Homo sapiens: one gene and its partners. Changing the gene in region 1 together with any one later gene gives a genetic interaction. Each region holds a gene or a part of one and is shown in the gene's direction. Other genes may lie near its edges.

Region 1 (4,171 bases):
ACGTGACTGTTGTGAACACTGCTCAGACCCAAGCCTCGCCAGCCAGGGGCAGCATTTCTGGGCAGGTTCTTGGGCGACACGGGGGCAGTGCATGCTCCTGTGGATGTATCCTTACGGCTGGGTGGCGTCTGCCTGCCTCCGCCGACGTGCTTGTGTGCCGCGGGGACTTACCACTTTCTACCTGCATCCCCGGGCCTGCAGGTCTCAGGTTCCCTGGCCACCCCACCCAGCTGCACCTGCTCAGTGTCCTTCCTGGGTGTGGCCGCACCCCCCCTCCTGTGTCCTCGCCAGGCGGGACCCCGTTTCTTCCACAAGGCTGAGCAGAGTCTCGGTGGGGCGCACGCTCAAAAGGAGACATCTCAGCCACCACAGTGGGGAGCGGGCAACTCTGACCAGTGCCGGCCTGCAGCCTACATGCGGCTGAGGAGGCTGCGGTGGGAATTGCTGGGACTCAGGACGCCTGGGCAGAGGTTGAGGGGCCGCGCGTGGCGGGGAAGCCTTCATGTAGCCTCTCCCAGTGTCCGGGCTGGTGCTTGGGGAACAAGCCTGAGGGCCACAGGCTAATTTCCCAGCCGGGGCAGCCCCACCCCCGAAGGCCAAGCCCGAGGGTCTTCAGGTTCCGGGCTGAGCCTGTGTGCTTTCTCGCTGCAGGTCCTGAACGAGGCTGTGGGGGCCCTGATGTACCACACCATCACTCTCACCAGGGAGGACCTGGAGAAGTTCAAAGCCCTCCGCATCATCGTCCGGATTGGCAGTGGTTTTGACAACATCGACATCAAGTCGGCCGGGGATTTAGGTAGGCCGGCTCCGAGTTCTCTCCTGTGCCCATTCATGCAAGCTCCGTCCCGTCTTGCTTCGTCCATGGAGGCTTCACTGCCACACTGAGGACCCCGTTGCACATTGCCTGGTGTGGCTGGCGGTGGTTCGTGGTCCCGTCTGGGGCCGGCATGAGGTTGCAGCCATTCAGTTCCTCACAGAGCCTCATCTCAGGGCACTTCCTCTCTTTTGGGCAGCAGGAAATCCAGCTGTGGCTTCACACAGGTCTGCATGCATGTCTGGCTGGTGCCCCTTGCTTGGGTACTGGGACCCTGGGGGTGAGGGCAGGGCCGTCAGTGTATGGCTGTAATAGGGCTCATAGGTCTCTGTCCCGAGACACAGCGGGAACAGCAGCGTGTTGCAACCCAGTACGTGTGCACTCAGCACACAGAACACACACGTCTGCACCTGTGCACTCAGCACATGGATCACGCACACTCAGCACACAGAACACACACGGAACACGCACATCTGCATCCGTGCATGTGCACTCAGCACATGGAACACGCACACTCATCTGCACCCATGCACATGCAGTTAGCACACGGATCTTGCACACTCATCTGCACCCGTGCACATGCACTCAGCACACGGATCACGCACACTCAGCACACAGAACACGCACATCTGCAGCCATGCATGTGCACTCAGCACATGGAACACGCACACTCATCTGCACCCGTGCACATGCACTCAGCACACGGATCCTGCACACTCATCTGCACCCGTGCACACGCACTCAGCACACGGATCACGCACACTCAGCACACAGAACACACACAGAACACGCACATCTGCAGCCGTGCATGTGCACTCAGCACATGGAACACACACACTCATCTGCACCCGTGCACATGCACTCAGCACACGGATCACGCACACTCATCTGCACCTGTGCACACGCACTCAGCACATGGATCACATGCTCATCACACAGAACACATGCACCTCTGCTTGTGCACTCAGCATATGGAACACTCATGGAACACGCACGTCTGCACCCGTGCACCTACACGCACATGGAACATGCACATGTGTCTGCATCCATGTACAGACACTCATTAGAACAAACTTGGGGCGGTGCTTGGCCGTCCTGCTTGGAGCGCACTTTCTGTTTTCTGCCAGGCTCGGTCTGTTTTTTCTCCTCCTCTCGATGCTGGTAACAGGCGAGGTTGTACCCTGCCCTTGCCCACAGTTGGCCAGCGCCTCACGGTTTTGCTTCCCTTTTCCTAGGATACAGTTTATGGCATTGCAAAGTTGGAACCGTCTGTGTTCCTGCGGGGGACGCAGGTGGTGTCGGAAGCCATGCCTCCATCTGGGGGTCTCCTGCACTGGCTTCAGCTGCTTCCGCCGGCGCCCATGGGCCAAACCTGTGTGCCAGCCTCCTCCCGCCTTTGTCTCTGTGGTGGCGTCCCAGGAAGGGCCGGCTGCGGTGTCGGGTGCAGGCCTGGGTGTGTGGTGTCGGGTGCATGCCTGGTGCTTTTTGAGGGGTCCCTGCTGTTTACCATCTCTGTTACCCGTGGAGTTTCCCAGGCCTGGGCTCTGTTCTTCAGCCAGGGATGGTCTGGGGCACCCCTGGGATCTGGCCCACCCTCAGGAGGTCTTTGTTCCAATCTCGTGTGGCGCCTGGCTTGGCTCTCCCTCAGTCTCCCTTGTTTAACATTTTTACGTCCAAGTGAGTTGTGTCTAGGGGCTATGCAGCCCCTGCCTGCGCCGCCCCACATCAGGCCCTCTCCCGGCCCCCGGGACCCCTTGCGGAACCACACGGTCCTGTCCAGCTTCCGGGCCTATGAATGCAGCCCTGTCCTGGCCTCCTGCCCCCTCCTCCTCCCCAGGGAGACGGATGGCCAGTCGGACACAGGAATGCAATCATCCGGATGGGGTGGGAAGTGCCGTGCAGGGGCGGCCCTGGCCAGGGACAAGCCAGGGATGAGGGTAAATAGGCTCAGGGAGGGGCACTGGCTGGGGAAGGGCCTGTCTCTGGGGACAAGGCCGGGAGCGGGGAGTAGGGGTCACACATGGGCGTGCCTGGCCACTCGGGAGAAATGGGATGGACTTGCTTTCCAGGAATGGCTCCAGCTTCAGTGTTACCGACTGCAGGGGTGGGGCATGGAGGGCGGAAGGGGCTTCGGGGCCCGGCTGGGCCTGGGGGAGGCCTGAGGACATGTGCGGATGTCCACGTAGGGGTGTGCAGGCGGGGCCGGCACCCAGATTCTGACCTGGCCACAGCCTCCCAGCAGGGTACCCCCGAGAGGAATCGGGGTGGCGAGGTGACGCGGGGAGACACGTGCTTGTCTCTTCCTGGGCTGCCAGCGCTGAGTCGGGAGGGGTCAGGGCAGCGTCTCACACCCCAGCCCTACCACACACCGAGCAGTTGCCGTGTGTGTGCTGCCACGTGAACCTAAAGTGGAGGTGGGGCTCCTGGAGTTGCTCTGTTGCGCCCGACCTGTGAGCAACGTGTTCATCTCGTGGCCTCCCGGGGTGGCCTTGGGGACACGGCCTTTGGCTTCTTCCTTGGGAAGCTTCAAACCCGCTCCAGTCACGGCGGCCCCGGTGTCCTCCCGGAGGCTGGGCCCGGCCCGGGGGTGACCGCCGTGTCCTTGTCCCCACAGGCATTGCCGTCTGCAACGTGCCCGCGGCGTCTGTGGAGGAGACGGCCGACTCGACGCTGTGCCACATCCTGAACCTGTACCGGCGGGCCACCTGGCTGCACCAGGCGCTGCGGGAGGGCACACGAGTCCAGAGCGTCGAGCAGATCCGCGAGGTGGCGTCCGGCGCTGCCAGGATCCGCGGGGAGACCTTGGGCATCATCGGACTTGGTGCGTCGGCCGCAGCTCCACGCCTGTGTCCCTCCCTGTGTCTGGCGCTGCCGCTCTTCAGCTGTGCCCAGGAGGAGAGGCCCGGGGCGGGGTGGGGCTGCTGCAGGTGTCGGTCCCAACCCAGGACAGGACTGAGTGCGCACAGGCACCAGGGCCCGGGAGTCCCAGGCGTGTGCCCTACGTGCACGGACGTCACAGCACACGTGGGTCTCACACAGGCACACACAGATAACGTACACGGATGCCACAGCACACACAGCCTCACACAGACATCACAGCACGTGGGTCTCATGGGCACATGCAGATAACACACACGGACGTCACAGCACTCACATGGGCTTCATGGGCACATAGATAACACACGGATGTCACAGTACACAGCCTCACACAGAAATCAGAGCACACATGTGGGCCTCACACAGACATCATGGCACACACAGACATCACACACCGATGTCACAGTACACATACTGGCCTGCACGGATGTCATAGATGCCACAGCACACATGTGGGCCTCACAGACATCACAGTATACA
Region 2 (3,500 bases), on another chromosome or scaffold:
GATCCTGAAGAAAGAGAAGAAAAGCAGAAAGATCTGGAGGATCACCGAGATGGTATGCCTGATTATTAGGATTCTGTGTAGCCATTACAGCTTTCTTTCAAAAACAGTAGAAAGAGTAGAAATAGGGCTTAGTTTCTTCTTTCTCTTTTTCTTTCTTTGTTAAATATCACATTGATAGCAGTATAATCAAAATTAACATATTATGGCCAGGTAGGGTGGCTAACTCTGTAATCCTAGCACTTGGGAGGCTAAGGTGGGCAGATTGCTTGAGCCCAGGAGTTCAAGACCAACCTGGGCAACATAGTGAGACCCCATCTCTACTAAAAAGTAAAAAAATGAGACAGGGTGATTGCTTGAGCCCAGGAGGTGTAGGCTGCATTGAGCTGTGATTGTGCCACTGCACAGTCTGGCTGGGTGACAGAGTGAGACCTTGCCTTAAAAAAGAAAAAAAAAAGCATAATACTTGCAACATTATCTTCACTTGAGTATCTTTGTTTCCTTTGGCTAGCAAAGAACGTAATTTTTTGTGTGCTTCACTGGGCATCATTATAATATATAACATTGATATTCACCGTGTACAAGTTGTGTACTAATCACTTCTTATGCACCAGCTCACTTAATCCTCATAATGGCTTCATGAGATGGATGTTATTATCAGATCCATTTTCTTTTTCGAGACGGAGTCTCGCTCTGTCGCCCAGGCTAGAGTACAGTGGCCCCATCTCAGCTTACTGCAAGCTTCGCCTCCTGGGTTCACGCCATTCTCCTGCCTCAGCCTCCCGAGTAGCTGGGACTATAGGCACCTGCCACCACACCCAGCTAATTTTTTGTATTTTTTAGTAGAGACGGGGTTTCACCGTGTTAGCCAGGATGGTCTCTATCTCCTGACCTCGTGATCCACCTGCCTCGGCCTCCCAAAGTGCTAGGATTACAGGCGTGAGCCACTGCGCCCCACCTGTCAGATCCATTTTCTATTTGAGGGGATAGATTTAGAGAGGTTAAGTAACTTATAAGATTACACTATTGGGAAGAAACAGAGTCAATAGTTGGTGTTCTCTACTTGGCAAAGCTCATGCTAAGGCAGCATAGAATAGAATAATTTGGCGGGTGAAATAGCAATTTCTAAGAAGCGTATTTCAAAAAAGAGAAAATAACAAAAAGGTACCTTATTGACCTTATTGATCATCTAGTTCAGCTCCTTCATTTTACAGATGAGTAAACAGACCCAAGAGGTAAAGTGATCACTCTAAGTCACAAAATCAGTTAGTAGCAGAGCTGGGAGTAGAACCTAGGTTTTCTGCTTCCCAGTGCTCTTAAAGCTTTTCATATTTGAATTTGAATTTTGTTTTTGACTGACTGGCATTCCACAGACATGTAAAGTATGTGAGAAGTAAGTAAAACACAAAATAGAGATGATTTCTTAGAAAATCAGCTTTGTTATAGAGACATAATTGGGTAGAGAAAATGAAAGATCAAAAACTTGTTTACTTCCATTCTTTTTTTCCTTTCATATTCTCCTGTTTAGATAAAGAAAGCCGCCCACCTCGGAAATTTCCTTCTGATAAAATTTTTGAAGCCATTTCCTCAATGTTTCCAGATAAGGGCACAGCAGAAGAACTAAAGGAAAAGTAAGAATTTGTTCCTTTGAGGCAATCTTGCCCTGTATGGTATGTAACTCACCATTTTGGTTTATTACAAATGGAATCAATGTAGCGGATGAGCCACTACACTTTGTTTACAGTGTTTGCAAGATACTTGAAGCAACATGTGTACTTGTGGTACTCTGCATTACAAAATATTTCCTGTAGATAGAATAAATACATATGTATAATTTATATATACACATAAACACACACATATACATAAAATTTACAGTAGTACATTTACAGGAAAATTATCTGGATACTGGTAGAAATTTGATGTTTAGTTAAAACTAATATAATATCCTTTTCCATGATATATTTGAATCATATCGATGAATTTGATTCTTGATAACACCATGCACAATATTTAGTTGGCTCTTTATCTAAATAGAGCCATTCCTTTATGTTTTAGGCAAGATAAACATCAAAAGTAACACATGGAAACCTTTTAGAAACTGTTTTCAAAAAAGTGATTTTTGTTTCATGTTTACTTAAATTTTTCTTGGTTAATGTCAGATATAAAGAACTCACCGAACAGCAGCTCCCAGGCGCACTTCCTCCTGAATGTACCCCCAACATAGATGGACCAAATGCTAAATCTGTTCAGAGAGAGCAAAGCTTACACTCCTTTCATACGCTTTTCTGTAGGCGATGTTTTAAATATGACTGCTTCCTACATCGTAAGTGCAATTATTGTACGTTTTCATTTTCTATCTTTGTTGTGGAATTATGTTTTAAAGCAGCTTGGAGAGTGCTATCATTTATTACAACTAGAATTTATCATTTAATCTTGTAGTTACTTTGACAAATATCTTTAGATCTCAGTATTATTATTTTTACTTTGTTGCTTGAGGATTGCTCTGAAATCTTTTGCATGTATTTCATTTGGACTACTATTTTCCACTAACATGGAATTCAGGTCAGTGATTTTTTTTTTTTTCCCCCGTAAGTGCTAACTAAGCAGTTGTTTTACAATAAAACTATTATTATGAACTGGTAGCCCAGAGCAACATTGCTGATATTGATGAATAAATTGTGTTAAATAAGAAATTGGCCAAAAAAATGTTCAGGTAAGTGCTTGTCGATTTAATGTAATTTTATTTTATTTTATTTTATTTTTTTGCCCTCTGGGTAAGTTGTTTTTTAAAAATACCTGCATTTGAATACAAGTAAAACGTAAAATGTTCTTAGTGAAAATGTAAGTATGGTATATACAAAAATACTTTTTTCCTCTGGCATTTCTAGGGAATGTGGTTTCTTAGTAAATTTTCCTGGTAATTGAAACTTCTAAGCACAGTTTAAAAGCGTCAACTACTTTTGAGGCACATATTTTGAAAATGTATTTAATACTTCCTAATTTTCCTAGAGTAGTTTGCTTATTATAGTTTGGTTTTTCCTATATTGTATTTTAGTACGTCTGTCTATGGCATGGTAATTTCTTTAGGGGCTTTGACCCATTGTAAAATCGTTTTCCCCTGTACTCAACGGCCCCACATTGCTTTGTTGTTTTGAGTTCCTGTGCCTACCATTGACAGATTTATTCCTCCTCGTTCACCAATGATAACGTCTTTTTAAGCTTGCCCAAGCAGCTGTACCTCACCTCCTCCTAAGTGTTTGCTCTACTTGTTTTTGCTGCAGCTAATAATGTGTTGAGTGATGTAATACATTGGTCTGGAAATGTTAAGTTTTGTTTTTGTGTGTGACATATTAGTGGTTTAGTTATCTTAAAATAGAAAAACTTGAAGTAGATTTTTAGAATTATCATTATATTGTTACCTCCTTGCTCTTGTTCTAACTCCTCATCTAGTTTAAATTGATTTGGTAGTTTTAAAAATTCGTAGTAAGTCATCCATTTGT
Region 3 (2,299 bases), on another chromosome or scaffold:
CGCCCGGCTAATTTTGTATTTTTAGTAGAGAACAGGTTTCACTATGTTGGTCAGGCTGGTCTTGAACTCCTGACCTCAGCGCATCCAGAATTTTAGACGGGGCCCCCAGGGTGAGGTCTTGGCACCCTCCAGTAGAGAAGAAGGGACATGGGCCATACGTGGGGTGTCCTTTCTGGGAGCCTTGCGTCCCTTACCTGCCTAGCCAGGGATTGCACCTCACAGCACGCAGCCAGCAGGAACGGCACCGTGATCTGATTTCACCTGCGGGCCCTGGGCCCTGGGGGTGTTTGACAATTGGGGCATATCACAGTGTGAGCTAGTCCCGTCTCGGGGGTTTGGAGGCTCCACGTGGCCGTGGTACAGGAGCAGGCAGTTCCATCCTCTGGCCTGGATCAGGCTCTGCACACGGAGGCCTGTGGGCCAGATGACTGACAGGAGGGGAGTTGGGTGGAACCTCGGCCTGCCTGATATCCAGCAACAGAGGGCAAGGGCGGCAGCACCTCCAGCATGACAGTCCCTTCCAAGCACGTCAGGATGCTCCCTTGCCTGTGCTGGCAGCTTCCTAAACATGGGGACTGGGCATGGTGGCAGGTTTTTGTCCTTCTGAAAGAGCAATTTTGCTGTGAGGTTACTTGCTCCTTGAGTTCTTGTCTGAGGCCCACCTGGCGGCTGCTCCGTGAGGAACGAGGTGGCCCTGCTGCAGCTCAGCATCCCGCCACGCTCCCAGGAGTGTGTGTTTCCTGGGGGGAGCGGCCCGGGACCGTGGCTCTGTGGTCCATTCTGTGGATGTCCACAAGGCCTGGGCGTTCTGTGGGTTTGGGTGGCAGTCCCGTCTGGGCAGCTCCTGCTGGGCTGGGTGTGGGTCTCCTGCTGGTCTGCCCCCAGCTGCACAACGTGTCTTGTGCCTTGCCCTCTTGTACCTCTGCAGGTTTTGGCTACGGGCCTCCACCTCCACCGCCAGATCAGTTTGCCCCTCCGGGGGTTCCTCCTCCACCAGCCACTCCCGGGGCAGCACCTCTGGCTTTCCCACCGCCTCCGTCTCAGGCTGCCCCGGACATGAGCAAGCCCCCGACAGCTCAGCCAGACTTCCCCTATGGTCAGTATGGTAAGTGGTCTCCTGCCATGCCGCGTCCCCGCTGGCCCCAGGACCCTGGGCACGGCCTGCCTTCTTCTGCTTCCTCCCCTGCTGGACGCTCCCCAGCCTTTACCTGGTGGGAAAGGGGAGAGGGAGGAGAGGGGGGTGTGGGGGTTGTTGGAGAGATCTCGTGGCAACTCGGGTCCAGCAGAAGGGAGCGTGGGAGTCTTGTCGCAGCAGAGCACTCGTCATACAGCAGGTGCTGCAGGGCCTGCATGTGTGGGAACCTGAGTGGCGACTGGGTCGAGGGAAGTGAGTCGCAGGCAGCTGTGATCACTGTCTAGAGGTTCAGGCCCTCGGTGTGGGTCCCGGGTGCACTGGCCCCTTGGTGGGTTCCAGTTTCTGGCGTCATCAGCCTCCTGCTGGGTCCAGACCCCGCTTGGGGCAGAAGCTGGGTCTGTAGTAGGCGTGGCCTGGACGTGGGCTTCACCCTGGACTGGATGGCTGTCGTGGCTTGGGTCTGCCTGGACGTGATCTGCAGGCAGCGCATGTGCTTCCGGGGCAGGAGCTTGTGGGGGGGCGGGGTCAGCATGGGTCAAGGTCTGCATGTCAGTAGTTCTCGCCCTGCACTGAGCCAGGAGTCACAGCAGCCTTGCTCAGGACCAACGCGGTGGCCTCAGTGGGCAGGGCTCCAACTACGGTCAGCTCCTCCAGCACCAGGGGTCATTCACAAGCAGGGTTTGAGAACATGGGGCACCTGTCTGCAGGTGGCCACGGGCTTCCGGGGTGCCTGTGAACACGCTTCCTCTAGGCCTGGTGGAGGCCGGGGTGTGGGAGCTGTGTTCGGCCGAGGTGCCCGCCCACCCACCTCGCATGGCTGTGGTTCCCCTGCCCCCACGCCCAGGCCTTGGGCCGAGGTTGCCGCATGTGTGGGTTCTTGACCCACTCACCACCAAACCCTGGCGTGTCTGAGACTGGCAGGGGGGTGTGAGGCGCCCGGTTGGGGCGTGGCGTGTGTCAGCCGCTGCTCTTGGTGGCGGCTGCTTGGGTTGGTCACCCTGGTCTCGTCTCTTGCCAGGCCTGGGTTCCTATTCTCCAGCCCCGCCGGGCTGCGGCCCACACTTTGTTTACAGTCTTATGGTCAGGCTGAGCAGTGATGTGGCCTAGGTAGGTGCCGCCTCCTTCTCCAGGGTCCTCCCACCCGCCTGCACCGGGAGGTGGACG
Region 4 (3,500 bases), on another chromosome or scaffold:
ACATTTTTTTTGTTGTTGTTTCTCCAGTTTATTGAAGACTTTAAAGGGTGAGGGAAAATTGAAATAGAAGTTGGGCAAATATAGATTTGCCCTTTACCCAGCAATAACGTACGTAAAGTGGGAGTGAATAGTCTTGAGTGAGTCTCTCCTATTCAGAGAGTGAGCTGGGCAGAGAAAAGTTGGTTGAAGAAGAACAGGGTGGTAGTCTAGGGGGACTGAAGATGGAGGTCCAAGAAAAAAGTGTGTAGCGATGAGTTTAAATCATTTTTGTGTGATCCCAATGTAATTTTATGAATTGCAGGGGAAAACAATGAATTAATTTTAAGGTCAATATGTTTTAGTTCAAGATATTGAAAAAGCTTTCTAATTACTTTTTATTTCATAGTTTTTTTTCTAATAGAAGCATTCTATTACAAAAAGGAAGGTGGTAATCTTTTTTCACCTTTTAGGACAGCCTCCTAATGTTTGTGATGTATTTAAATCTTTTGTGTATTTTCAATCTATGTTAAGTCCCCTTGTTACATATTCCAGTTATACTTATTCCAGTTGTAATTTACTTTGTAATTATTTATTGTCTATCTCTCTTCCCAGAATGTAAGTTCTGTGAGGGTCAGGGGTCTCTTTCCGCTTCTCCACTGTATCCCCAGTGCCTGGCTTAGTGCCTTCTATATAGTAGATTGCCAATGTTTGTTTGTTGATTGAATGAATGAATCTTAGGATTGGTACTTTAAAAAATGCTAAGAATACAATTAAATAAATCAAGAAGTTTAAGTAAATTAGAGTGTACAAATAATGATGTTATTATAGTAGTATTTCTTGTTTTGATTTAGTACATAAAACTTAGAATTCTTATTCATAGATACAGGTCATTAATTGAGACTATTTTTAGTGAAAATACCAACAAGCAATAAATTGTCTAAAATTGCAAGTTAAGTTTTTAATTATATTTACATATAAACTATCTCAGAGTATGATTATATAATTTGACCACTATGAAAGTAACTGAAACCTGGTTTGGCTAAGGGTGGTTATTTTACATTAAGTATAATATAAATTAATTGAGATGTTATACATCAAATCCCAGATAAGCTATGATTTTTTTGTTGTTGTTAGCCTGAAGGAGAGGCAAGAGATTGCCACAACTCTAAATACCTCAGATAACATCAGGCCATCTGTTGCTTTTTAATGCAGATATTTTAGCATCAAAAAGCAATGGGAAATGTAGAAATGGGAAAAACACTGAAGGCAGTTTTGTTCTTGCAGTCTGTCAGATTTTCTCCTTTTCCCAGGGTAGGGATCGAGGTTCTGAATAAGCCATTTCATTTTATAATAAAAAGCAAAACTCCCTCACACATGCTGGTTATTCTAGAAAAATTTATATATATATCACTAGGGACTTAACTAAGAATGTGATTTTTTATCTTTTTAAGGGAGAGTCTCACTCTGTTGCTCAGGTTGGAGTGCAGGCATGTGATCATAGCTCACCGAAGCCTCAACCTCCTGAGCTCAAGTGATCCTCTTGCCTTAACCTCCCAAGTAGCTAGGACCACAGGTGGGCATGACCACACCTGGCTAAGTTTTAAAATTTTTCTGTAGAGATAGTGTCTCACTATGTTGGCCAGACTGGTCTCAGATGCCTGGGCTCAAGCAGTCCTCCTGCCTCAACCTCCCAAAGTGCTGTATGATTGTTTTAAATAGGAAAAAATTTAGAATTTTATAATATCAAGGCACTTAATTTTTAGTTAGTGATATACCATCCAAAAGGCATCTGAGGCTGGGCACGTTGGTTCATGCCTATAATCCCAGCACTTTGGGAGGCCAAGGCAGGAGGATCGCTTGATCCCAGGAGTTCAAGACCAGCCTGGGCAATGTAACAAGATCCCATCTCTAAAAAAATAATGATTAAAAAAATAGAGACAAAAGGCATCTGAAACATAGGAACCTAATTAAAACATTATATGTATATACATATTTTCATTAAGCGTATGTGTTAAAATATCATCTAGACCAATGTTTTAAGGGATTGTTTTTCTAAATATATTAATAAAACTATTAAAAGGCCAAAAAGCTGTCCTAACTTATGACTTTTTTTTGAACCTAAATTTAGATGCCCCTCAAGGGATGTATTATTAGTAACAATCATTCTTGGTAGTGTTGCCCTTAGTCATATGTTGTCCTCTGAGATTGTGTATTCTTGAATAGATAACAAGTGTATTTACAAATCTTCTTTGCCAGTTTCAAACAAAGTTTCTTAAAATTTCCTAGTACGGACTCCAGAATTCCTCAGCAGCATCCTTTCATCAACCTACCCAACCTGTAGCTAAGAATACCTCCATGAGCCCTCGACAGCGCCGGGCCCAGCAGCAGAGTCAGAGAAGGTTGTCTACTTCACCAGATGTAATCCAGGGCCACCAGCCAAGAGACAACCACACTGATCATGGTGGGTCAGCTGTACTGATTGTCATCCTGACTTTGGCATTGGCAGCTCTTATATTCCGACGAATATATCTGGCAAACGAATACATATTTGACTTTGAGTTATAATATGGTTTTGTGACTTATGAGCTGTGACTCAACTGCTTCATTAAACATTCTGCATTGGGTATAATCTAAGAATTGTTTACAAAAAGATTATTTTGTATTTACCCTTCATTCCTTTTTTTGATCCTTGTAAGTTTAGTATAAATATATCTAGACATTCAGACTGTGTCTAGCAGTTACGTCCTGCTTAAAGGGACTAGAAGTCAAAGTTCCTTGTCTCACTATTTGATCTGCTTTGCAGGGAAATAACTTGTTTTTTCTCATGTTTCATCTTCTTTTTATGTAAATTTGTAATACTTTCCTATATTGCCCTTTGAAATTTTTGGATAAAAGATGATGTTTTAAGTTCCAATGAGTATTACTAGTTACTCAATACCACTTATTGAGTACTCTGTTTCTACGTATGTAGAATGTATAGGGATAGAAGAGTTGAAAAGGGAAAGCAAAACTCCTCAAGTAGCTTCCTTAAAATGTCATTCATAGGAGATGTACTGGAATTGCTCATTCTGTGACTTTATTTGTGTCCTAAACATTCTTCAGTGAAAATAATTTTATTTCAGTCAAACATTTATGAGGAAATGAGATCACATCTTTGTCACTGGATGCTACTTGAAGAGGGAGTACTTTGTAACCACTTTGATATGCTGTTATCACCACCCCCTGCCCTCTGCTGCCATAATCACACAAATTTAAAAAGAAAGAAAACAGTCTTCCATAGATTTTTAAGGAAGAAAGGGCCCAAGCCAGGAGATCGCTTGGTTTTCTTCCAGAAGTTAAATGGGGGGATCTGAAGATTTGAATGTTTGGTCTGCTTTGAAATGTATGTCTTTTGGGATGTATTATATGCCTAGCTTTATAATCAGTATAAATTTTAATTATTCCAGGAATATGCATAATATTGAAATATTTCATGTCCTATTTTAATAGAAAACCTCAGGGCCCAAGTAACAGTGATAGAA

The links.
Region 2: changes in CTBP1 (region 1) and EZH2 together harm fitness less than expected from each alone (positive genetic interaction), as found in Homo sapiens cells (one large-scale study listed by BioGRID).
Region 3: changes in CTBP1 (region 1) and DAZAP1 together harm fitness more than expected from each alone (negative genetic interaction), as found in Homo sapiens cells (one large-scale study listed by BioGRID).
Region 4: changes in CTBP1 (region 1) and UBE2J1 together harm fitness less than expected from each alone (positive genetic interaction), as found in Homo sapiens cells (one large-scale study listed by BioGRID).

What each region holds. Positions count from the first base shown.
Region 1 is NC_000004.12:1,224,824-1,228,994, reverse strand, and holds part of CTBP1 (C-terminal-binding protein 1), read left to right. Parts: intron 1-651; coding exon 652-796; intron 797-3,428; coding exon 3,429-3,635; intron 3,636-4,171. UniProt on the Homo sapiens protein: Corepressor targeting diverse transcription regulators such as GLIS2 or BCL6. Has dehydrogenase activity. Involved in controlling the equilibrium between tubular and stacked structures in the Golgi complex.
Region 2 is NC_000007.14:148,825,292-148,828,791, reverse strand, and holds part of EZH2 (histone-lysine N-methyltransferase EZH2), read left to right. Parts: coding exon 1-52; intron 53-1,525; coding exon 1,526-1,628; intron 1,629-2,159; coding exon 2,160-2,338; intron 2,339-3,500. UniProt on the Homo sapiens protein: Polycomb group (PcG) protein. Catalytic subunit of the PRC2/EED-EZH2 complex, which methylates 'Lys-9' (H3K9me) and 'Lys-27' (H3K27me) of histone H3, leading to transcriptional repression of the affected target gene.
Region 3 is NC_000019.10:1,431,586-1,433,884, forward strand, and holds part of DAZAP1 (DAZ-associated protein 1), read left to right. Parts: intron 1-928; coding exon 929-1,105; intron 1,106-2,153; coding exon of another isoform or gene 2,154-2,242; intron 2,243-2,299. UniProt on the Homo sapiens protein: RNA-binding protein, which may be required during spermatogenesis.
Region 4 is NC_000006.12:89,328,723-89,332,222, reverse strand, and holds part of UBE2J1 (ubiquitin-conjugating enzyme E2 J1), read left to right. Parts: intron 1-2,235; coding exon of another isoform or gene 2,236-2,265; coding exon 2,266-2,544; 3' UTR 2,545-3,500. UniProt on the Homo sapiens protein: Catalyzes the covalent attachment of ubiquitin to other proteins. Functions in the selective degradation of misfolded membrane proteins from the endoplasmic reticulum (ERAD) and is essential for cells to recover from ER stress.